Linked DNA regions of Homo sapiens. The protein of the gene in region 3 interacts with the protein of the main gene of each other region in a biochemical or structural test. Each region holds a gene or a part of one and is shown on either strand. Other genes may lie near its edges.

What was found. Proteins that work in one complex are often made in the same cells at the same time.
Region 1: the proteins of VDR (region 3) and STAT1 form a complex in vitro, tested with the Homo sapiens proteins (one study listed by BioGRID).
Region 2: the proteins of VDR (region 3) and POU1F1 form a complex in vitro, tested with the Homo sapiens proteins (one study listed by BioGRID).

What each region holds. Positions count from the first base shown.
Region 1 is NC_000002.12:191,002,850-191,011,171, reverse strand, and holds part of STAT1 (signal transducer and activator of transcription 1-alpha/beta), read left to right. Parts: intron 1-722; exon of another isoform or gene 723-800; coding exon of another isoform or gene 801-805; intron 806-1,167; coding exon of another isoform or gene 1,168-1,168; coding exon 1,169-1,296; intron 1,297-2,028; coding exon of another isoform or gene 2,029-2,064; coding exon 2,065-2,209; intron 2,210-3,510; coding exon 3,511-3,609; intron 3,610-8,322. UniProt on the Homo sapiens protein: Signal transducer and transcription activator that mediates cellular responses to interferons (IFNs), cytokine KITLG/SCF and other cytokines and other growth factors.
Region 2 is NC_000003.12:87,265,263-87,273,584, reverse strand, and holds part of POU1F1 (pituitary-specific positive transcription factor 1), read left to right. Parts: intron 1-88; coding exon of another isoform or gene 89-166; coding exon 167-238; intron 239-8,322. UniProt on the Homo sapiens protein: Transcription factor involved in the specification of the lactotrope, somatotrope, and thyrotrope phenotypes in the developing anterior pituitary. Specifically binds to the consensus sequence 5'-TAAAT-3'. Activates growth hormone and prolactin genes.
Region 3 is NC_000012.12:47,844,980-47,854,623, reverse strand, and holds part of VDR (vitamin D3 receptor), read left to right. Parts: intron 1-7,815; coding exon 7,816-7,967; intron 7,968-8,172; coding exon 8,173-8,289; intron 8,290-9,618; coding exon 9,619-9,644.

The DNA of each region.
Region 1 (8,322 bases), on a different chromosome or scaffold from region 3:
AACTAGCTTTATAGGCCAGACATTTCCTCACACTCCTTTGGAAGGACATTTGTGGAGTAGGCGTGACCTCATGCCTGCATACATGTGCTCGGCTACAAGTATGCATACACACTCTTCCATGCCCTACTTGAAAATCCAGACTCCTTCCCCAGAGGTCTGGCAGGACAAGATTCACTTGTGTCTGCTCTGCATATTGCCACCTGTGTGCTGATATAAATCCTAAGTTACATGATGGTCATGGGAGACTCTCCGTTTTCCTAATGAATTTTAGGACTTGCTTATATCAAGTTTTTGTTGTGATTTTGAATCTTTAGGATCACTATGTAAAAATGGACTTAACAGTTATCCAAAAAGCTAAGTGTTACTTTATCCTTTTAAATTACATTTAATGATGTTTTAATCTTTAAAAATCATTACTTCTTTATGCCAGATTTATTGTTTGTAGTAGGCAAAGAAGAAAATATATCTTTTTAAATGTGTATAAGAAAAATAATGAATTTTACCATATGAATCATAAATATAAAACAGAAGTTTGAAAATATTTGAGTTAAATTACAAATGTACTGTGATTTGTAGGAGAGCAATTTTGGGAGAGTCTTGTGATTTGTCTTAAAGCAAGTCTAATTAAAATAATGTTTTTCATGTATTTATTTGATAAAATCACAAACTCATTTTAAAGGCATATTTATTGGATACCTACTATGTGGTTGACATTGTTCTAGGGATACACCAGTGCACAGAATCCTCCACCAACATCCATCCCTTCAAGTGGTGAAAACAGACAATAATGAAAATAAAATATGTGGTAGGTCAGATGGTGGTGTAAGTACTATGAAGAAAAATAAACCAGGGAAAAGAGAGAGCATGTTTCCAGGGTGGGAGGTGGTTGCAGTTTAAATAAAAGAGGCCAGAGAAGGCTGCCCTGATATGTTGACAATAAGCAAAGACATGAAGATGTGTTTCGTGGAGGAGAAAAAAAGTTCATCCCCAAACTCAATTAAAAACAGGCTTTAGACTATAAATGCCATTTAAATAAAATATTCCTGGGACAAACTATGTTTTGGATTAAGCAAGATATTTAAGAGTACAACCTGATGCTAGGAAGGCTTTCTTTGGAGCTATGGTTTCCATATACATAGAAAGAATGTATATTCTTTTTCCCTATAGGATGTCTCAGTGGTACGAACTTCAGCAGCTTGACTCAAAATTCCTGGAGCAGGTTCACCAGCTTTATGATGACAGTTTTCCCATGGAAATCAGACAGTACCTGGCACAGTGGTTAGAAAAGCAAGACTGGTAAGGAAAATTCACTAGACAGAAGAAGAAGTTTACACCTTAAAAGTACTGGTTGATTAAGTGACTTGGGGCCATGTTTACTGGAAGATGAATTCCATCAATGGCCACTGGAATTATTTGTTGTAGAAAAGTTTGTTGATTTAAAAAATGACTCAACAAAGTTGAGCCAAAAAGTGTCTCAACAAAGTTAAGTATATTAGTCATTAAGCACTTTTATACAGTTTTGCCAAATTTAATTTATGATAGATATTCCTAAATGCTTTGGACAAGTTACGGAATACTGACACCGATTATTTTCCAACTTAGGATCCAGACTATAGAAAGAAGTAATTTAAAAGAAATAAAGCCAAATTAATGGTTAAACATTGATTAGAAATATGAAGAAGGTAGTAAAATTAAGGGGATTTTTTTTAACTGATAGGTGTTCTACTTTAAAATTTATTATTTGCTAATTTAAAAACGTCCTGAAAGTATTTGACATAGAAAGTGAAGGGTCCCCTGTTGACTTTTCCCCCTTCAGAGATAGTCACCATGAACACTGTCATGCACAATCTCTTAGAGTTTAGAATTTTTTGTGCTAATTGCACATAAGAGAAATACCACATAAACTGCTGCTAAAAGCAATGTCAGTTTCAAAAGAAGAAAATAAACCTAAGAAAATACTTAAATTATTTTTAATAATTTCAATAAGGAAACCAACATTTGTTTTGTCTGTTTTACATAGACATTTAGTTCTAGAATGAAATGTGTAAATGTTAAATCTCCTAGGGAGCACGCTGCCAATGATGTTTCATTTGCCACCATCCGTTTTCATGACCTCCTGTCACAGCTGGATGATCAATATAGTCGCTTTTCTTTGGAGAATAACTTCTTGCTACAGCATAACATAAGGAAAAGCAAGCGTAATCTTCAGGTATGACCTGGTTTTTGTATTTTAGTTGAAATGTTCTCATGTTTATGGAAGGCAGTTTTCTTCATTCAGCAAATACAATTGAGCACACACTTATTGGTATTTAGAGAAGTAATAGAGACTAACTCCATTTATGTTTTCTACAGCATCAGTAAATATAGCATAAGTAAAATAAGATACCAATTTATTTTATAAACACAGAAGGAATTTTTAGGGTTAAATGTATCACCTCTTAGGTATCAGTAATCCTGAGAAAAATGTGATGCTATAATTTTGTTTTACTAAAAATTGTCAATATTTAAACCAAAGAAAAGGGGCTACATTTTAAGAGCAATGATCTATAGTAATACATTAAAGCTCCAGGGAACATTAGTGGTTAGGTTCAGGTCCTTGCTATGCAAATGAGGAATAAAACAGGAAAGGTTTGACTTTCACCTAAGGAAGTCAGGTGACTTCAGGAACTAGACTCCACCTTGCCTTGCTTCTGGTGGAGTTGGCCTCTCCTGGAAGAGAAAGTCAAAGAAAGATCCAGACATGAGAGAACATGCTATAGAGTTTTAGGGGTTCTTCAGATGTACTCCCAGCATGCCCTTGGGGTGGCTATCATATTTATGTTGTGTAATAACAGAACTTTTCTGTTTTAATGGAGGTGAAAGCTATCATTTTCTTCTTTCATACAATACAACTGAACTTTTCAGCTTAGGTAATTGGAAGTTGTTTTTTTTCCTTTGTGAATGTATTTATGATTTTATTTACGAGTGGGGAAATCAAATTAACTTTACAGAAATTTGTTCTCATACAGACCTTGCATGAATGTACCTGTATAAAGAGCCATTATTGCTATTGGTAGTGTTTTGCAAACTAGCTTTGACAATGGCAACAGAAAACCCTAGATGAATATCTTTGGTCTAGTTCAAAGCTTAGACCAACAGATGCATTCATTGAGGAATGTCATGTATAGTTTTTATATCATTTGCATTGTCTCGGGATCCTAACCAAAGATAATTGGCCTTAAGAAATATGGAAAGATATTAAAGTAAAAATATTATGTGAACCATATGTGAAAATACTTGTTTTTAAATCAAAAAGTACGTTAGGTACCTGCACTTAGAAAGTTAAAGCAATTTTTGTCATAATTCGTGAAAGAAATATTTTGATTTTAACAAACATAGCTTATATAGAATTTAATAGATGAGAGATGAGGTTTCCCGGAGAATATAAACAAATTCATATCAACTTACAATACACAATAAAGTAAACATTCTGCATTTTAATTTATTTTTGTTCTAACCACTCAAATCTAGGATAATTTTCAGGAAGACCCAATCCAGATGTCTATGATCATTTACAGCTGTCTGAAGGAAGAAAGGAAAATTCTGGAAAACGCCCAGAGATTTAATCAGGTACTTTTTTCTCATTGAACACATAAACTGTAATAAAATAAAAATGTATTCATTCATCAAATACTATTAGGGCCCATGTCAAAGCAATGATGAATATCTCTCTAATTTTATAGCCCCAAGAAGTGGGAGAATCAGATTTAGAGATTTTATAGAACCAGGCTTTAAGAAAGATCCTAATCTAATGGAATTAAGTTCTAACGAGGAGAGAGAACATATAAACAAGATACTTCTGGGTAGCATAAAGTGCTGAGAAGATAACATGCTGAATTCATGGAGTGGCTGGGAGTGGGGTTGTTCCTTTAGATCAGGGTCAGGAAAGGCCTCTGAGTTGCTGGCACAGGAATGGAAGCAGGCAGATAGAGGGTTCTTGCAGCTGTCCAAGGTAGAGGCAGTGGAAGCTTGCGCTCAGTAGAATCAGTGGAGGTAGGAAGAGGTGGACAGATTCAGGTTATGCTTTGGATGTGATACCAATATAGAAGGATCCTTATGTTGAAGGATTAGATGCAGGAGTGAGAGCAGAAAGTCAAGGATGGCTCTACAGCAGCTACTAGAACCCCTTGAAAAATGGTAATGCTGTACACGGAGCTGGGAAGGCAAGGAGGGGGCAGGGGCAGGAGTTTTGTAGGACTCAATAGGTTTGTGGAGAGAAAAGGAGGCTGATGGGAAAATCAAGGGCTTTGTTTTGAGCAACATCAAGATACCTATTAAATATTCAAGGCATCAAACAGTAAATGAGTCAGAGTTGTACTAGTATCAAGATTTTTGATCATTGTTTTATTAATCCTAATACAAACCTTCCTAGTTGTCAGGGTTCAGCAGAGTTTTGAATTTGCTATGGCATTTAGTATTCCTTTCTTGAGCACTGGGGTGGTGACAACAAGCCAACAGGCAGGCAGTGTGAAGCCACCATGTTATGGATTGTTCTGGAGGAGCCCATTGCTATATGGATGCCAGAGGACACAGTATGCATCCTGTGTGCATTTCACCAACAAATAACTACCGAAGTGAACTGTGTGACAGTGGAGAGGGAGGGAGTTTAGGTGTGGTGGAGGATGCCATTCTCCACACACTGCCTGAGCATTTGTCCCAGTCCTTGTAATCCTGTCACTTCCCTAGGCGTATAGTTCCCATCTTCTTGTCACACTGATAGCATCTTGCTGAACTGAGCATGTAAAGATACATATTGCTTATTCTAAACTCAAGCTGGCTAGCTCATCTGGTACCCAGCCTAGGGAACAAAGGTGTATATCAACGCTGGAGGAGAAGCTGGCCAGGTTGTCTCCTCTGAAAGAGGTGTGCCTGTCTCTAACCTGGCATATACCTGGGAGATTTTCAGCCGGCAGTTTTGATTATATGGGGCTTCCATCCTAAAAGTAGTATGCGTGGGCCTCCTCTGTATTTCTAATAGACTTGAAAGGACAGCCAGGAGCAAAGATGGGCAGAAGGACAACCTGTTTCCCCCAGCTGCAAGCATGTCATCCTCACATTTGGCCCCTTGGCCCAGAGATGGCATTGGCAGCAGAGTAGGTGACCCCTGCTCTCCCACATGAACCTCATCCCCTGGCTTTGGATCTTGAAGGTTTACCAGCTTTTGAGCTCCCTCCCCATTAAAAATGTAGGTAATCTGGGGATTGTTTTGAGCCTCTCAGAGGACACCTGAGTCCGTGAACACCTTTGCAAAGCCTTCTTGGGGTGTGAGGGAAGTTTCTGGGTGTCTGGGGATGTCAGGGAAAGGGAAAAGGCACAATAGGTGCCTCCTTTCCAAAGTTATCCAGCCAACTATTGGCTAGGTAGGTCAGAAACATTTCTTCACCATTTCCCCCCTTGTTGAAGTAACTTTATTTTATTAATACAGACATGCATCACTTAATGACACAGATACATTCTGAGAAATGCACCACTAGGTGATCGCGTTTTTGTGCAAACATTATAGAGTGCACTTACACAAACCCAGGTGGTATAACCTACCATACACCTACACTATATGGTAAAGCCTATTGCTCCTAGGCTACAAACCTGTACAATATGAAGTTGTACTGAACGCTATGGGCAATTGTAACACAATGTTATTTGTGTATCTAAACATAGAAAAGGTACAGTACAGATAGTGTGTAAAAGATAAAAGGTGGTACCCCCATAAAGCTCCATTCTAATCTTATGGGGCCACTGTCATATACGCGGTCCATCGTTGACTGAACCATTGTTATGTGGTACATGACTGTGTATATTCTATTCATGCTAAAGTATATGTGTATGGAATGGTGTGATGTCTGGTATTTGCTTCAAATAATCCCATTTGGGGACTAGAAGAGTAAGGAGAATAGGGATGAAACAAGGCCATCCATGAATGCTAATTGTTGAAACTGTGATAGGTACATGGGGATTCAACAGATTCAACAAGTTAAAAACATGCAAAATTCCGAGTTAGTTCAGATCATTTAGAGACCACAAAATTCTATAGACATGCCGAGATGGGAAATTATTGTTCCCATTGTTTTTTAATATAAGAGCTTTTAGAAAATACATTTAAGAGAATATTATGCTATACACACTGTAGTAGACTATAAATGTTTCGTGTGCTGTCTTACAGCACACTAAGTTTTTTTCTTTCTTTTTTTCTTTGTGGTGAAAAAGCTAGTTGCATGTCTAGACAAAAATTTAGGTCCATAGGGTCTGAAGGGATGGGGAGAATTTCTTTCAGGTGGGAGGGAAAGACATGAGGTGGATTCTAAGCTTCCTTTGCTGTTCCATCTTTGTGTTCTTAAGGACTAATGGTTACCATATGCTGAGTGCTTATCATGTTTCAGGCCCTGTGCTAAGCACTTTATAAACATTATTTCATTTGAGTAAATACTTTCGAAACTATCACTGAAGTTAGGTATTCTTATCCCCATTTTAAAGATGAGAAAACTAAGGTTTAGAGGTCAGGTACTTCACTCAGAGCCACAGAGCTAATGAGAAGTAGGTTTGGAATTTAAACCCAGTATTGTCCAACTCTAAAACTAGTTCACTGGAGAAGTCACTTTTCAGTTTTCTAATCTGTGGGATGGGATATGAGGGCTTTCTGGCTGGAACTTCTCACACCCATGGAGTGCCTATTCCCTTACTTGGACAACTGCTCACTCCATTGGAAAGGACCCCCTTCCTGAGCAGAAGACTTTTCTTTGCTCTGGGGTCTGGAGTAACCAAGTTCCCATCCAAACAAGGTCTCTAGAGGTACAGTAGTGAAACGAGAAAGTAAGAGTCAATGACAGCCGAAGTCCCTTCCAACTTCAGTGTTTGAAATTCCCGTGGTTTCAGTACTCCTGGTTTCTTAGAAAGTTAAAAAGTTAAGGACTCACTGTGAAAGTGGTATCAGTACTAAAGTGTACAGGAGCAGCCAAGCATCTGCTTAGCAGATGGGGGCAGGGTGGAGGGAAGCAGGGAGGGATGAGTGGAAGGGGTAAGAGAGCACCAAGGGTTTGAGTGACTTGGAGGGACTACTGCCCAAGTTGGAAGCAGGAGATTTCTTAGGCCCTGCCACAGTCACCAGGTTTTTCCACCAAGCATCTCCCAGCAAGTCAGTAGAAAGGGGATGTAGAAGCTGGGGATGTAGCTGCTGTTTTACAGCCATTGTTTATATCCCTGTTCTCTAAACCGAGCCTTGGTCATTTGGGAGGAGGCCTGGGAAGTCAGAATTCTCCAGTGGCCTGGTCCCTCTCTCTAGGTGTAGTGTCCCAGCTGTTACAAAGCCCACAGGACACCGTGCCCACATCCTGCTGGCTTAGAAGTTGTATTAGTCTGTTCTTGCATGGCTATAAAGAAATACCTGAGACTGGGTAATTTATAAGAAAAGAGGTTTAATTGACTTATGGTTCTGCAGGCTGTTACAGGAAGCATGGTGCTGGCATCTGCTCAGTTTCTGGGGAGGCCTCAGGAAACTTACAGTCATAGCAGCAGGTGAAGGGGAAGCACACATATCACATGGCCAGAGCAGGAGGAAGCAGGGGAGAGGTGCTCCACACTTAACCAGATCTTGTGAGAACTCGTGATCACAAGGATAGTACCAAGAGGATGGTGCTAAACTATTCATGAGAAACTGTCCCCGTGATCCAGTCACCTTCCACCAGGCCCCACCTCCAACAATGGGGATTACAATTCATGAGATTTGGGTGGGGACACAGATCCAAACCATGTCAGAATTAGACAACAGCAAAGATTTCCCTGCACAGGCAGAAAGCTGTATGGAACTCCTCAAAGTGACAACTTATTCCAACCGCCCAGAGAAACCCCTTTTGTCACTGAGTGATATGTGGCACCTTGGACTTACAGAGGATACCAGTAACATTCATGTATTTCTAATACACACTTTACAGCTGATACAATTCACATGCTTTGAACTTCTGCTGTTGGAGAATATGTAACATGAAGGAAAACTTCCTATGAAGAGAGAATAACTTTGATGACGTATGCCTGATAAAGATAAAACAAAAAATTATGGACCAATTTTACTTATGAGTATCAATATAAAAGTCCTCAATAAGATATTAGGGATCAGAATTAAATACTACATTAAGAAAGGACATGACCAAATATGATTTATTATAGGTTACAAGGGTAGTCCATGACTGGGCAACCTATTAATGCAATTCACTAAATTAATAGCTACAAGGAGAAAAAAGCATTTACTTCCTTCCACAGAAGCTGAAAAGATCTAACAGAATTCAATACTCA
Region 2 (8,322 bases), on a different chromosome or scaffold from region 3:
TATTGGCATGTAACTTTAAGAACCACATAAATGTGTATTTTTGAAATAAAACGAATGTGTCTTGAATCCTTATACATTTTCTTACCAGTCCCATCTATTTTGTCTTTGATCCAAACTCCTAAATGTTTGTGCACACATTTCTCGGTGACAACGTTGGGAAACACAGCAACAGGACTTCATTATTCTGTTCCTTCCTGTCATTATGGAAACCAGCCATCAACCTATGGAGTGATGGCAGGTAAGAAAAGTTGTCTTTTACATGTTATTGAATTTGGGGACACTTAGATGGATTTTCTGGGCCTGAAAGAATTGTGATCAGAGTGTGACATGAAATTTGATTTCTTAACTTTGAAAATTACTGTTAAAAATCACCACTTCTTGTTTCCTGCTCTGTGACACCCACAGAGACCATAGGGGTTATACCTAATTTCCCTACTTACGTATCTCTGAACTGCTGTGCTTCTTGAGTTTGCTTTGTATGGTTTTTATTGAAATTCACTATCGTCAAACTGTTAGTTGTAACATGATGCTATTGGTAGGCTTACCTTCACTAAAAATATAGTAGCTACTAGACACGTGTGGCTATTTAAATTTAAATGTAAACTAGGTAAAATAAAACAAGATTTCAAATTCAGTTTCTCAGTTGCACTTGCTACATTTCAAGTGCTCTATAACCACATGTGGCTAGCGACTCCCATATCAGACAGCACAGGTTTACAGAACACCCCCCCTCATCATTATATTTCTTCTGGACCTTTGGTCCATAAACATAAATAAGACATTGATTGAAGCTAAGAGTGATTGGTAGGGGCTTTAGTGATAGCTGTTTCAGGCTTTAGCAGCCCTTTCTGAATTGCTTCTGAGTGAGTCTTAAGTGAGATTGAAATCATTGAAGTTACATACTTTTCTCCTATAGGTAAGTGAAGTATGACTGTATCAATTATGGCTACCTGCTTATTGATCCTTCTATAAAGGCATTGAAGCACAGTTTTTGAGGAATGCGTAGATCTGGCTTATGAGATCTATTCATCAAAAATTCTTGTTTAATTTCATGGCATGGCCACATAAGATTTTAATTGTTTTTAAAAAGTACACAGTTTTATTATGCGCAGGATTTTCATTTGTTGGTTTATTTTTAAGATAGCTTTAGGAGATATACCTAACGCTAAATGACAAGTTAATGGGTGCAGCGCACCAGCATGGCGCATGTATACATATGTAACTAACCTGCACATTGTACACATGTACCCTAAAACTTAAAGTATAATAATAATAAAAGAAAAGAAAAGAAATTCTTTGATATTTTATCTTTATTACTACAGCAGGAAAAGAATTCTTATTGATGACAAACTGTGTGAGTAAATGTGTGTGTGCGTGTGCATGGTGTGTGTGTATGTGTGTGATACTGAGGGAAAAACTGTGGATAAAGGAATCACTTATTAGGGAAATCTTTTCTAATTGACTTGTGTTTTGTTATGATACAGATAAGCAGTAAAAAAAAAAAACCGCAGACAAATATTGATTTATTCCTATAATTTTCAAGTAAAATGGAGCAAATAGTTTAATTTTAATTAAATTGTTTAACCTTTGATATCTCAAAATTTGTCCATGTAAGACTAAATAGAACATTAAAACTTTAAAATAATAATCCAGAAAAATATGAGCTTCTCCTACATTCTATCAAGCAACATTCTGAATAAACCAGTATCCTAACATTTATGGTTAAATGAAGACTGGTGTTCTTAACAATGACCTGTAAATCCTGACGTCTTTTTTTAAAAATTAAGAATTAAAGCCATATTTTTTCTTCCTCTCTGAAAATTGATTATTTATGATCAACATGCTTAATTAGTATTCATGGTTAATGAGAATAGCCCTCCTCAATGATGAACTACTGTCATTATAAAATAGTAAAATAAATGCGTTTAGCTACTGGAGGTGCGGGTGGATTGCTTTCTGTGGCCTTTACAGCATTTTGATTATGAGACAGGAAATGACAAACACATGCCACTGTTTCCTGGAGGAAAGACCTTACAGTTCATTTAGAGGAACTCCCAGGAACCAAGGTACATTGTTAGTTTCTCTCTTAACCCAGCACAGAGGCAGTCCCTGCCAGTTGATTGAGGTTGGCACCAAGATTAAAACCAGTCACAGAGCAGGGGCCAATAATCTCTGGCCCAAATACCTTCAGATAATTTTTGCTACCAACTCCCACCCTGCCTAATCAGAGAGGGCCACCACTGGCCTCGGGAGTTTGCAGCTGGCCTCAGAATTCTAACACCCTTACTGCTTCCAGGACTGGAGCCAATATGCCAATGTTCACATTGAGAGTGTTGGCAGCTCATGTCTTTCTGATACAAGTTTCCTCCAGCATGAACTCAGCAAACCCTCTTCCACGAACCTCTTCCTCATTTCAATTAAAATGTAAAGACCCCTGGAAGAGCCTTTCAAAATGATTCAAAACCCTGTCTTAGTGACATCAAGAGCAGAAGACTTACACCAAGGTCTGGAGCTATCACTGTGGTCTTAAGATTAAATATATTCTGTGACTGAAAGAAAAACTCACCATCACAAGCACAAAGATATTTGAATATTTTTGAGAGGGATTGTTAAATCCCTCTCAAAAATTTTGTTAAAATGTGATATGCTTTAAATGTCAGAATGTCTATATTGGGACATAATTCAGTATTAGCATTTGCTTCATGAGAGATTAGATCTTAGAGAATCTGAACTCTCCTGACTTTATCCCCAGTAAAGCTGCATAAATTGAGTTACAAAATACAGCAATTCAGAAATAAGAGAGAAAAGGTAAATAAGAGACAAATGTATAAAGTACACAATAGAAACCTTATTATGTCATCTGAATTTTCTGAGAAGTCTTAAGTCATTAATCAAATCAGCCCCTTGCACACAATCCACAGAAGTGTCTTAACAACAACAACGACACGGTGTCACATACTCTATATAAAAGTGAAGCTACAGGAAGAACTATATTTCTAAAATATGTGAAATTACTTTATTTTCATATGGTTATTTCATTACTCATACTCTGATGCTTACATTTAGTTTGAGCATTTCATTAAATTAATAACTCACAGGAAAAGAAGAGCTATAACTAATATTTTGTCAGGTTGGTAGGTAGAATTTTAATGATCAGATGAATCCACTGTACGTAATAGTCCAGGTGCAGGCAAAATAAAGAGAATGACTAATTGGGAGTAATGAATTATCCATGCCATTAACTAATTACTAACATTGTTCAAGTGATTAACACCTCTGAGTTCCAATCTCTTCATATCTACGTTGTGGTGGGTACTACAACTCTACTGGGGTTGAGTAGTAGCAAATTTGTGTCAGCTCAAAATGATTTCTCTTTTGCCCTTCTCTTCACGTACTCTTGCAGCTAAATTCCTTCTGTCCTTTCACTCCTGAGAACTTAGAGAATTCAAATCAACACCTTACAGTACAAATAATAGAAAACCTAGAATTACAGATGCTGTTCAAAGTCTCTCCTAGATAAACACAAAACAAAACAAAGTATCAAAAAAAAAGTTCTCAAAACTCTGACTCTTGGGTTTCTGAGATTGTTTCTGTTCTCCAGTATCTGAAGCAGAGTACAATTCAGGAAACAAGCTCAATGGGGGTTCACCCTTTCTGCTGTCCTGTGGAAACAGCAAATCAACCTCACTGTAATAAATGTTAAACCCACCATCTTTACATGATGTAGTGGCCAAACCAAGAAGTAGTGTGAAAGTCCTTGCTTTAAAAGTTAATTTCAAGGGGAAAACAAAACAAAACAAAACAAACAAACTTGTTTAAGTCCCAAACTCTTGGGACTTAAACAAGATGATGAGCATCCAATTCTTTTTCATGAGAAGTGGATATTAAAAGAAAAGATTGTTATGGCTGAAAATATTCTTGCTGCCTGGGCTAATACAGAAGAAAACGGAAATCAGCCTGGCAACTGACAGGGAGAAATAGTCTAGTCTATTTTTGGAACCCATCTTTTCATTTTTTGAAATTTGAAATTTTTTTTTCTTAATTTACTTCTTTTGTTTAGTTCTTTGTTTTATTTGGCCCTAAATTGTTCTGGTTGTAACAACTCTAAGGAAACAAGTAATTCTGAAGATCTTTTGCTTCCACATCGTGAAAGGTCTTTTGGTAGCAGTAACATGATGTATTTTCACTTCCAGACTAGGGGTTGGCAACCCTTTTCTGTAAAGAACCAGACAGTAAATATCTCAACCTTTCTAGTTTTTGTTGCAACTATTCAACCTGTCATTGTAGTAGGAAAGCAGTCACAGCCTGTGTGTAAAGAAATAGGCATTTCAAATTAAACTTAATTTACAAACACAGGCAATAGGCCCCAGTTGTACACGGATAGGATTTACCAATGCACAAGAGTGAAAAGATCACAGTGGAAGTTTATAATTTCCTTTGAATTTTTATGCCTAAGCAACAGAGGGGAATATATGGAAATATTCAGATACATGTTCCTGTGCATGTTACAAGCACAGCAGGGTGGCGTATTTTACTATGTCCCTCTGCTTCCCCTGTTTGTTTTTTTAAGGCATCAAGCCAGTAACGTGAGATGATGTTGTCAGCTAACCACATGCTGCAAAGATCAATTTGCCCCATGCTATGGTACATTGAGTCAGCGCCTAGTAAGGCATCCCTATCTCTGACCCCCATTGCCTGCTTTAAAAGATTTACCTCTGTTCTTCTCTCTCCTCTGTCACACAGAAATGCATACATAGCAATTTAGAAAGGCTCTGGTGAATTAATCTTCAATGTGAAAATGTATTTGGAACTACAGTGTGCAAACACTTCTGAGCTATGTGTGTGTGTGCTGTCCAGGCCTCAAGATAATTTTTCTTTATCCATGTTTCAGAAAATGTTGATGAGACCTCTGTCACACATGACTCACAACATCTTTTATCTTATTCCTACTTTTTGCAGTAATCTGGGTTTTAAAAAGATTTGAAAAACATATTGCTATACATATCATCCCAATCACTCTCCACACTCCCCCAAATGCAGGCTCAGATGCTAGAAACAGAGGTTCGTTTGGCTGTTCTTTTAAATTGTTGTGATGAAATTCTGTGTGAAGTTAGTTCCAGGAAATCTGTGACCTTGCAGATAATTGTAGATACTTTCATGCAATGAAAAATGAAAGTGAACCAGGTGCAGTGGCTCACAACTGTAATCCCAGCACTTTAGGAGGCCGAGGCAGGCAGATCACCTGAGGTCAGGAGTCCGAGAATAGCCTGGCCAATGTGGTGAAACCCTGTCTCTAAATAAAAAATTATAAATAAAAAATAAATTAAAAAATATAAAAATTAGCCGGGTGTGGTGGCAGGCACCTGTAGTCCCAGCTACTAGGGAGGCTGAGGCAGGAGAATTGCTTGAAGCTAGGAGGCATAGGTTTCAGTGAGCCGAGAGCACTCCAGCCTAGGGAACAAGAGCGAGACGCTGTGTCAAAAAAAAAAAAAAAAAAAAAGGGAAAGGGAAAAAAATAAAAAATGTATCACACATCACATTTTCCTTCTTGTTCTGGATGCCAAACCTTGGAGCATGGTATTTTCTGTGTACTTTTCATGGATTCCATTCAAATTTGTTTTCTGCGTGTCCACTTTCCCAGAGTACTTACAATGTATAAACTACCTTTCAATTTTTGTGGCTGGGTTCTGTGGCTTATACCTATAATTCTAGCACTACAGGAAGCTGTGGCTGGAGGATTGCTTGAAGCCAGGAGTTTTGAGACCAGCCTGGGCAACATAGTGAGATCCCGTCTGTGCAAAAAATTTAAAAAAGTAGATGAGCATGGCGGTGCATGCCTGTAGATTCTACTTAGGATGCTGAGGTGGGAGGATGGCTTGAGGCCAGAAATTTGAGATTGCAATGAGCTAAGATTTTACCACTGCACTCCAGTCTAGGAGACAGAGTGTGACCCCATCTCTAAAAATAAAGAATAAATAAGCAAACAAACAAATAAACAATTTTACGGAAACAGGGATGACACACTTTATATATATTTTATTGTAATATTTTTGTGGAACAGTGTTTGTTTAATATAGCCAAAGGTGTTTAAATGCAGAGAAAACCTTTTAAAGAGAAGTTATTTAATTTGCCTGAGTATAGACTGCCTGGAGAATGAACCGGGCAATGATTTTGATGTGGCTTACTGCAATGCTTATTAGACTTTAGTTCTGGTTTAAACTGCAAAGTTAATTCGTTGGGCACTGGAGGCAAGTTATTTACTTTCTTTCTACTTAAATTTCCTCCATTGTAAATTATGGGGAAAAATATATATCTTTCCTGACTCATTTTTTGTATAAGGATAAAGATGATAACAAATGTGAAATTAACACGACACAAAGTGTTGCATAGAAGATTTGTAGCAGTACATAATTATGATCAGCAAGAGAAATTGAAAATAATAATAATAATTGATAACAAATTTAGACCTTTTAGTATGCGTAAGTAAAAAACACACAAATTTTTTATATAAAATAAACATAATTTGACATAGGTTAAATGAGTTATCTAAAGTGTCTTAAAATATGTTAAATGTACAAAATCTAACAGTAGCCTGGCTTTTCTTTGTACTCTTTCTCAGGGTATTTTATCATTAAATGTATTAAGTGATACCTGATGGACCTAAATAATCAAAGAAGTGAAGGTTTTATAAATATATGTGAGAATCAATTCTGAAAGCATAAGCACAAAACAAGTCTTCAGATAAATATGAGATTAAATAAATGATAACATAAATGTCATCAATTTTCTTTTACATCTATTAGTCCTTCTTTTAATTTAGCAGAAAATTAAAATTAATAAAAAGCTAAAAATAAACCCCACGGCAATAAATATTTTCAAGAAAAGCTATATAATAAAAGAAAAGTTGGTAAAATTGCTTTTAAAAATGTTCTCTTGTCTGATCAAGATGCCACACAATAAAGCATAAAATGGATAGTTAACTGACTTTTACAAAAGTAAACCTGGATAATTTTGGTTTGTAAAAGTAGCAGGAATTTTTTAAAGACAAAAATAATTTCTTTCACATCTTTTCCCAGCTTTAGAGCAGATAAATTTATGTTATGCTAATTTGTTTAATCTCTCATTTGTATGTTTACTTTGTTTTAGAAAAAATAATATACCCTATTAGATATAATTACATATTTATAATTACATATTTTTATATAAATTTATAATTATATATTTATAATTACACATTTATAATTATATATTTATAATTACATATTTTATATAAATAATACATTAAATTAAATTTATATAAAATTTAATACATTAAATTAAATTTATATAAAATATAAATTTTATATAAATAAATTAAATTAAATAAATAACTACATATTTATGATTACATATTTTTATATAAAAAATATAAACCAACAATTTGCTGAGTTACGGTATTCTTTGCTCATTATATATTGATATATTAATGTAAGATTTCTGTATTCTGGAAAATATATTATTACTCATGTCTTTGATTTGAGAATGTATGTGTGGAGAAATTATAGGTAGCATGAACTCTTGATGCATTTTTTTCCAGTAAGTTTCTAAGAATAATTATTGCATGTATTCCATAGTAATTTATTTTAAAATATTTATATTTATAAGAAAATGATTAATTACTCAATATTTTTATATAAAAATGTCTTGCTTATACAATCATCCTTCTATGTGGCACATTGGTTCCAGGACCCCCAAGGATACCAAAATCTTTCGATGCTCAAGTCCCTGGTATAAAATGGTGTAGTATTTGCATATAACCTAGGCACATCTTCTACCTTAAATCATCTCCAGATTACTTATAATATCTAAATCAATGTAAATGCTATGTAAATAATTGTTATACTGTATTGGGTTTTTTATTTGTATCATTTTTATTCTTGTGTTGTTATTTTTTACTTTATTTTTTAAGTGTATTTAATTCATGGTTGCATCAATCCATGAATGCAGAACCCATGGATATGGAAGGCACACTAGACATGTCATTTAATATAAATTGAAGTAGAATCTTTGTCGATAAAAATTGTAATGTATTGATAAAGAAAACAAGAAACAAAATGTGTTGGAATTTGGCTTATATACTGTCCTCTCACCTATACTTCCCAACTGAGATAGACTCTTCCAATGAAAAAGGAAATCTGGAAGCAATTGTGTAATAATTTCAGACCTTTTTACATTTTTTGTGATTTAACATATCCACTCAGTAGAGTCAATGCTTTACCATTTATCGGTAATCACTTATCATATATAAAGTTGCAAACTTTCTTGCTTCTTATATTTGCTTTT
Region 3 (9,644 bases):
GGAATCCTCATATTATCTCTTTAAATTCAACGATATGATTCCTCCACACCCCAACTCTGAGAGCAGAATGAAGTGATAGAGAGAAGGGCTTGGCCATGTAGACTTGTGAAACAGTCTAGGAATCCTGGAGAGAGATAGGTTTACTGGCATATATGACCCTGGCATCCTTCACCAAAATGTACATTTAAAGACCATTTCCTGGCTGGGCACAGTGGCACATGCCTATCCCAACACTTTGAGAGACTGAGGTAGGAGGATTGCTTCAGCCCAGGAGTTCCAGACCAGCCTGATCAACATAGTGAGACCTCTTCTCTACAAAAAAAAAAAATTATAAATTAGCCAGGTGTGGTTGCACATGCCTGTAGTCCCACCTACTAGGGAGGCTGAGGCAGGAGAATCACTTGAGCCCAGGAGGTCAAGGCTACAGTGATCCATGATTTCACCACTGCACTCCAGCCTGGGCAACAGAGCAAGACCCTGTCTCAAAAAAGAAAAAAATAAAGACCATTTCCTAACCATACTGATACATTTTTGCCAAAATATATAAGTATAAGGAGTTCTACTGGAGAAGGGATCCTCCTTTATCAATTCATTCATATAAATTTCATTCATTTATTCCTATGTTTCATTGTTTTAACACTAGTACTGTATATAATACTTATATTTAAATACTCATGCAGTGTTAATTTTTTTTTTCTTTTTTGAGACGGTTTCGCTCTTTTCACCTAGGCTGGAGTGCAATGGCGCGATCTCAGCTCACTGCAACCTCCGCCTTCCAGGTTCAAGCAATTCTCCTGCTTCAGCCTCCCAAGTAGCTGGAACTACAGGAGCGTGCCACCATGCCTGGCTAATTTTTTGTATTTTTTTTGAGACAGAGTTTCCCTCTTGTTGCCCAGGCCGGAGTACAATGACGCGATCTCAACTTACTGCAACCTCTGCCTCCTGGGTTCAAGCAATTCTCCTGCCTCAGCCTCCTGAGTAGCAGAAATTACAGGCACGCACCACCACGCCTGGCTAGTTTTGTATTTTTAGTAGTAGAGTTGGGGTTTCACCATCTTGGCCAGGCTGGTCTTGAACTACTGACCTCAGGTGATCTGCCAGCCTCAGCTTCCCAAAGTGCTGGGATTACAGGCATGAACCACCACGCCCGGCCAATATTCTTTTTTTTTTTTTTTTTAATTGAGGCAGAGTCTCGCTCTGTCGCCTAGGCTGGAGTGCAGTGGCATGATCTCGGCTCACTGCAAGCTCCGCCTCCCGGGTTCACGCCACTCTCCTGCCTCAGTCTCCCGAGTAGCTGGGATGACAGGCGCCCGCCACTACGCCCGGCTAATTTTTTTGTATTTTTAGTAGAGACAGGGTTTCACCGTGTTAGCCAGGATGGTCTTGATCTCCTGACCTCGTGATCCGCCTGTCTCGGCCTCCCAAAGTGCTGGGATTACAGGCATGAGCCACTGCCGGCCAATATTCTTAAAACAATAGAGTATTGACACATTTAATAGATGTGTTGGGAAATGGCTATATTTATGTATATTTGTATCTTCATTCTTCCCCAAAGTTCATTTGGTATATTGCCATAAAATACATAAACAATATGGTTGAGAAAGAGAAGTAAATCAATCTCAAGCAATGTTATTGTCTTTCAAGTAGCAGCAATAGCTGTATTTACGGCAGAAGGGGCAAAATGCTTCCTAGATACTAATGCTCAGATTCAGTGCTGGAATATGGGGAGCTGGAAAATGAGTTAACATTGCCGGCTCTGGATGGAAACAGATTATGAGGTGCCATATATTGGTGTATGGCCCTCTTAGCTGTGTAGAAAAGCCATGAGTTATTGCCGAAATTAATGCCTTGCCAGTGAGATGATGGTCATTCACAGAGCTAAACCCAGAACTTTCCAGTTTGTTTCTGCCCTGAGAAAACTGGCTCTGTGTTATTTTATGCCTCTCACCAACCCAAATAACAGAAATTTTTCGATGCTCTTCCCCTGGAATTAATGTGAAAATGGTGAAGAAGAGAAAACTGGCAGACAGTGCTGAGACACTCCTACTGCATTGCACATTTTGGTTGTAGTGATAGGAGCGAGGGCCCCTCTGGCAGGCAGGCAAGCAGGAGCAAGCGACAGATCTTGTGTGAGCCCGGCATTGCTCTGAGCCCAGGGTTTACCCTCAGAGGCTTTCTTTGGAACTGACAACACATTCCGTAGAGCACAAGTTCCAACTCCCTCCTCCACGCTTCACGTTACTGTTTGCAAACTCCACATATTCCAAAGTCTTGTTTTGTGTAAACAGCTAGGGAAAAAACACAGAAGCACTCGGCTTCCATCCTCATGTCAGGCAGCAGTCCTTGTCTACACAGGCTTCATCCTTCCCTGCTCTAGTGGGGAGTAGGACAGAGGGCCCCCACGGCCCTTTCCAGATACAGTGATTCCAGGTTCAGTGATTCCAATGGTGGCTGAGATTGCATACACGGGAAAGCTGCCCTAAAAAGAAAGTTACTCATTAAATCGGATTACTCCAATGCTGCCCCCTTCACTAAGGAACCCCAGCCTCCAATTTCTCCCATGCTCAAGGCCCCTATCCATTGCCCTCCCACATGTACCCTGACACAAATAGCACTACTCTCAGTTTCTCTTCCCGAGGTTAAGTTGAAGTCTGCCCTCTTCCTTTCATCATGTTCTCCTCTGTCCCCTAGTCTGTCCTTGCAACTCATGGCTAAAGTGAGGTACATATGGCAGGTACAGGAGCTGCCCAGCCATTGATGCAAAATGGGTTAAACTGATCCTGAACATGCTAGGGTTGGCTTCTCTGTCTTCAGTATGACTTGAGAAGTCCCAGAGCAGAAGGTATGCCAATGAAAATGGAGCAGGCCTTGCTAAGAGAGCTTGCAGGGACACTGGTATGGACGCTCTCTGTGACTGGACAGAGGTGATGCTGAGCCTGGACTGGAGCCCAAACCTAGGCTCCAACTGGGCCCAGGGTGGGCCAGCCCAGTAGCTCTCTGGTTCTGCTGCTTTCCACACTTAGGGGTTCTATTGTTCCAAGACATAGAAGAACAGTGGCTGCATCCCTGGTGGCTTTGATCTTGCTGCCTGCAGGCAGGGGCGGAGGGTGTGGGGAAGGCAGGATGAGACTTCTGTGTGGGTGTGTGGGGGCACAGGATGAGTCTCCAGTGGGGGCATGAGACCAACGTGGGGCAGGGCTGGATGGGCTGTTCTTGGTGTGAACTGTGCTACAGTGTGGCCTTGGCCTGCTCTCTCCTCCCATCTCTCCTCCCTTAGCCTCTCAGTCTCACCCCACAAATCTCCCTCCCTGCTGGCACTGCAAATGAAATGCATGGAGGAGGTGGCATCAGCAGCAGCATCTAAATGGCCAAGAGCAGCCTTAGATCTGAGGACTTGGGACCCCCAGGCTTCACTGACAAGTAAAGTACACAAGAGACCAGGCCACATAAGCTGCAGCCCTGCCCTCTTCTGCTAAATGCCTTCACCTTCATTGCCATTTCCATACCTAGGGAAGAGCCCTGGGGGTTATCATGCTTCCTTCGTGCTGTGCCCTTTCTCCACATTCATTTCTTCATCCATCCAACAAATAGCTTTCTTACATAAACTGTGAGGGACAAAAGTTGTTGAGAAGACAGTCCCTGGCATCCAGGGATTTGGTGTCTGATGAAAGAGATAGACATGTAAACAATTGCTGCAAGGAGATAAGAGCCCTGCTACAAGCCTGCTGGAGGTACCGTGGGAATGCGGGAGGGGAGGGGAGGGGCCGGGCTCTGCCTGTGGGGGTGGGAAAGACGAAACAGCAACACAATTCCAGTCACATCTCGGGTGCCCAGAAGCGGCTGCAGGCGTGAAGACAGAGGAGGGTGTAAATGTCACACAGGTGAGGGAGGGGGAACGGAGCTGTGCTGGTGCCTATCATCGTGGAACAAGCTCTCTTATGGCTTCCCCTGTAACTCCACCTCTACTCCCACCACGCCACCATCCCTGGTCCTGGCTGTGAGCTGTATTTAGAAAGGCCCTGTATTTCCAGGCTGTGGGCAGTCATTTGGGGTCGTTTTGGGTTTGTGTTCCTAGCAGCAGGATGTCTGGATCACAAAAGCAGTGATCCCACTAAAACCTCTCTGGCCTGCATCCATGGAAGATGTGTTCACTGCTGGCCATCTGTTTGAGTGGGGCACTGAACAAAAGGCTATGTATAAAGTTATTCCTCCCAGAATTACCTATGATAGCAAAAATTGGAAGCAATCAAAATGTTCAAAAATAGATAAATGGAAGACTGGCTCAATAACTTAGAGTATACTGTTATGATGTAACATCATGCAACCCTCTAAGAACTGGGCTAAATAATTTTGAGTGATATAGGAAGTAGGATAAAGAATTAGTATAAGCTCCAGTATGTTAAATGTATACTCCCTCTCTCTATGTATATTTGTGGGTATATATATATTTGCATAGAAAAAAGACAGGAAGGTGCCAGGCACGGTGGCTCACACCTATAATCCCAGAACTTTGGGAGGCCAAGGTGGGCAGGACTCACTTGAGGTCAGGATTCAAGAGCAGCCTGGCCAACATGGTGAAACCCCATATCTACTAAAAATAGAAAAATTAGCCAGGTGTGGTGGCACATGCCTGTAGTCCCAGCTTCTCCGCAGGCTGAGACAGGAGAATTGCCTGAACCCGGGAGGCAGAGGTTTCAGTGAGCCGAGATTGCACCACTGCACTCCAGCCTGGGTGACAGAGCAAGACTGTCTCAAAAAAAAAATTAAAATAAATAAATAAGAAAAAAAGATAGGAAGAAAATACGCCAAAATGTGAAGTGTGGTTATGAGCAAATTTAATTTGTTTTTACATTTTTATGTATTTTCCAAAGATTTGATAATGAGTATGTTTTACTTGTATAATGAGTCAAAACAAAAATGGGGATGGTGTTCATTTTTGTGTTTTAAATGTGGATTGAGCATCTAGAGAAAAGTGACAAGGATGGTGAGATGTTAGACATTGTGTCATTAGACTATCTGAAGGAGGACACGGCAGTTTTCCTTTTTAAAAAACTCCATTAGTTATGGTTCAAAGGAAGTCCCATGGCTAGTGGAGAAGTCTGGTTCTGGGTTTATTGAGCACAAAACTGTAAACCACAAATGAGTGTACTATCACGTGGATTGTAGCTCAATAGAAGAGGTCATTAATCTCGGCGCTAACAACCCCATGGCTGTGTCCAGAGGCCCTGAGCTCCCTGACCCTAGGAGAGTCCTGCAGAGGTTATGTAGGAGCCATCTCTAAGAGTTCCTAAGAGGGGCCCTCCAACTCTAGCACGTTGTGATTTTTTTTCAATACAGATCCTTTGCTGGCCATCCTGATCATGCAAGCCTTCTCATTTCCCACCATCTATCACCCATTGATACAACACTCTCATCAGTTAATATCAGCTTCCCATCTTTATATATAAACATGCAGCCATTGACGGGGTGACAGCCTATCTGCAGGATATCCAGGAGGAAGTAGACAGTCAGGAAGAGAAAGGGAGTAAAAGCCAGAAGCAAGCTGATTTGTGAGCCCTGCCTTTTCCTCGCCATTGTTCAGACAAGCCCATTCCTGACTCAGAATAGTGGAACTAGTCATTGGCCTCTCAAATCATCAACGCATCTCTATTGATCATCTTGTGCTGACGGCTCAATGGTCAGTGTGTGGGCAACAGTAAGGTGATTAAGAGGAGGTGCTGGCCCCCAAGTAACTTACAAACAAGAGTAGAAAACAAGTGGCCGGGTGCAGTGGCTCACGCCGTAATCCCAGCTCCTTGGGAGGCTGAGGCAGGCAGATTATCTGAGGTCAGGAGTTCGAGACCAGCCTGGCCAACATGGCGAAACCCCGTCTCTACTAAAAATACAAAAATTAGCTGAGTGTGGTGGCAGGTGCCTCTAATCCCAGCTACTCAGGAGGCTGAGGTAGGAGAATTGCTTGAACCTGGGAGGTGGAGGTTGCAGTGAGCCAAGATCTCACCACTGCACTCCAGCCTGGGCAACAGAGCAAGACTCTGTCTCAAAAAAAAAAAAAAAAAAAAAAAAAAAAAGGAGTAGAAAACAAGCATGTAAAGAGCAGAACTGGAGGAGACGGGCAAAATAAGAGCACCAGCAATGTTCAAGGCATCACAATGACATGGCCCTAACTGTGCTAAAGAGTCAGAAGGTGCGGGGCTCCAGTGGAAAACACAGTGGATTCAGGACCAGAAAAACAAAATGGAGAATTAGAAGGGTATTCCTGGCTGGAGCTGTAGTATGCTGAAAGGCGTGGTGATGGCTGGGTGCAGTGGCTCACACCTGTAACCCTGGTTCTTTGAGAGGCCAAGATGAGAGGATCACTTGAGGCCAGGAATTTGAGACCAGCCTGGGCCACATAGTGAGACACCATCCCTACAAAAAAAATTTAAAAATTAGCTAGGCGTACACCTGTAATCCCAGCACTTTGGGAAGCCTAGGCAGGCAGATCACAAGGTCAGGAGATCGAGACCATCCTGGCTAACACTGTGAAACCTCGTCTCTACTAAAAATACAAAAAAAAATTAGCTGGCCATGGTGGCGGGCACCTGTAGTCCCAGCTACTCGGGAGGCTGAGGCAGGAGAATGGCGTGAACCTGGGAGGCGAAGCTTGCAGTGAGCCGAGATCGCGCCACTGCACTCCAGCCTGGGCGACAAAGTGAGACTCCGTCTCAAAAAAAATTAGCTAGGCGTGATGGTGTGCACCTGTAGTCCCAGCTACTTAGGAGGCTGAGGCAGGAGGACTGCTTGAGCCCAGGAGTTTGAGGCTGCAGTAAGCCATAATCATTCTGTTGCACTCCAGCTTGTGTGACAGAACAGGACACTGTCTCTAAAAATACTAATAAAAGAAATTAGCTGAGCATGGTGGCGCATGCTTGTAGTCTTAGCTATTCGGAAGGCTGAGGTGGGAGACTCACTTGAGCCCAGGAGTTTGAGGCTGTAGCATGCTATGATCATAACACTGCACTCCAGCCTCAGCAACAGAGTGAGATCCTGTCACAAGAAAAAAAAAAGGCACAGTGAGAACACACAGCATCTGAATGTGGAGTGGCATGATGCTGCTAGAATGGAAGGTTGGTGGAGTTTACCATGGGAAAGGGAGTTGGAATGAGAGGTTGGAGCCAAGTTAGGGAGTGTGGGCCTGATCCTAGGGTGTTTGAGAGTCAGTGAAGATTTCTGAGTGCAAGAGGACATTGACCTGCAGCAGTGGTAAGAAAGATGAATGAGAGACTGGAGAGACACAAGTCTGGGATTCCTGTAAGAGGCTATTGGAAAAGACGCTGGAGCTCTGAACCAGGGCACTCCTGGTAGGAGTGGGAATAAGATCACGGGCTTGAGAGACATCCTAGAGACAGAGTTGGCTGAATTTACTACTGAGAAGGACTGGAGGACAGTAGGAGGGAGAGGAGGAGAAAACTTGGGTGTTGTTGAAGATACCATGGCCCTACCTTTTGCAGACCACCATATTCATGCCTCAATGCTGGGAACTTCCCTGGGCTCCGTTTCCTGTGCCCCATAGCTCTGGCTGCTTGGTCTCTGAGTTTTTCTTGTCTTAGTAACTGAGCTACTTCACTTCTGGCCTTGGCACATGATCACAGTGTTGAACTGTTCTCTCTCAAGGAACACTCTTGTCCCTTCCAGCCAGCCTGCAAGCTCCTCGATGAAAGACCCAGGGTGCATGTTGGTGCCCAGCAGGTGTATACCTGTCAAAGCACTAAACTGATTTGTGTGGCTTGAAGGCGTTTACTGGTAACCTGACCTCCTTCCCTCCCTCCCCTGCAGAGACCTCACCTCTGAGGACCAGATCGTACTGCTGAAGTCAAGTGCCATTGAGGTCATCATGTTGCGCTCCAATGAGTCCTTCACCATGGACGACATGTCCTGGACCTGTGGCAACCAAGACTACAAGTACCGCGTCAGTGACGTGACCAAAGGTATGCCTAGACTCCACCTCCTGGGGAGTCTTTTTCAGCTCCCAGATTCTGGCTCCACCCGTCCTGGGGTTTGGCTCCAATCAGATACATGGGAGGGAGTTAGGCACCAACAGGGAGAGAAGGGCGAGGGTCAGACCCATGGGGTTGGAGGTGGGTGGGCGGCTCCTCAGCTCTGCCCGCAGTACCTGGCCATTGTCTCTCACAGCCGGACACAGCCTGGAGCTGATTGAGCCCCTCATCAAGTTCCAGGTGGGACTGAAGAAGCTGAACTTGCATGAGGAGGAGCATGTCCTGCTCATGGCCATCTGCATCGTCTCCCCAGGTATGGGGCCAGGCAGGGAGGAGCTCAGGGACCTGGGGAGCGGGGAGTATGAAGGACAAAGACCTGCTGAGGGCCAGCTGGGCAACCTGAAGGGAGACGTAGCAAAAGGAGACACAGATAAGGAAATACCTACTTTGCTGGTTTGCAGAGCCCCTGTGGTGTGTGGACGCTGAGGTGCCCCTCACTGCCCTTAGCTCTGCCTTGCAGAGTGTGCAGGCGATTCGTAGGGGGGATTCTGAGGAACTAGATAAGCAGGGTTCCTGGGGCCACAGACAGGCCTGCGCATTCCCAATACTCAGGCTCTGCTCTTGCGTGAACTGGGCTCAACATTCCTGTTATTTGAGGTTTCTTGCGGGCAGGGTACAAAACTTTGGAGCCTGAGAGATGGTTCTGCCTATATAGTTTACCTGATTGATTTTGGAGGCAATGTGCAGTGACCCTTGACCTCTTCCGCTGGTTAGAGGTGAGAAGAGGGAGAAAAGGCCGAAGAGGAAGTTATTGTGACCTTGGGGACATGATGTCGGTGATGAGGTCCAAAGAGGGGCGGCCCTGCCTCAGCCTGTGCTAGTGGCCTGTGCCCAGGGATGCTTTCCTGGACTGGAGGCTCAAGGAATGGAGATGGGCTCCTCTACCCCTGCCCAGCCAGCCTTCTCTCATTCATTCATCCACTTAGCAACAATTTATTGAGCACCTATTAGGTACCAGGCACTATGCTAGGTACTGGGGTTCAGCAGCAAATGGGACACAGGCTCCTCTCCCATGAAGCTTAGGAGGAAACATTAAACAAATGTTATTTAATTATTAATTCCTAACAAGGCAAGAGTTTTAAAAATAAAGTAAGTGATGCTACAGAAGGGTAGAATAGAAGGAGGGAAGCTGACGTGGTCTGGGCTACAGAGGTAGAGTGTTGCCAGGAATGGCCTTTTGGAGGAAGACCTTTTAAGCTGTTATCCAAAGGATCAGTAAGAGTCTGGCAAAGATAGCAGAGCAGAGTTCCAAGCAGAGGGAGCACAGATGTGAAGGCTGGTGGCCAGAGAGCATGGCGCATCGGGACGCTGAGGGATGGACAGAGCATGGACAGGGAGCAAGGCCAGGCAGGGACAGGGCCAGGTGCGCCCATGGAAGGACCTAGGTCTGGATCCTAAATGCACGGAGAAGTCACTGGAGGGCTTTGGGGCCAGGCAGTGGTATCACCGGTCAGCAGTCATAGAGGGGTGGCCTAGGGGGTGCTGCCGTTGAGTGTCTGTGTGGGTGGGGGGTGGTGGGATTGAGCAGTGAGGGGCCCAGCTGAGAGCTCCTGTGCCTTCTTCTCTATCCCCGTGCCCACAGATCGTCCTGGGGTGCAGGACGCCGCG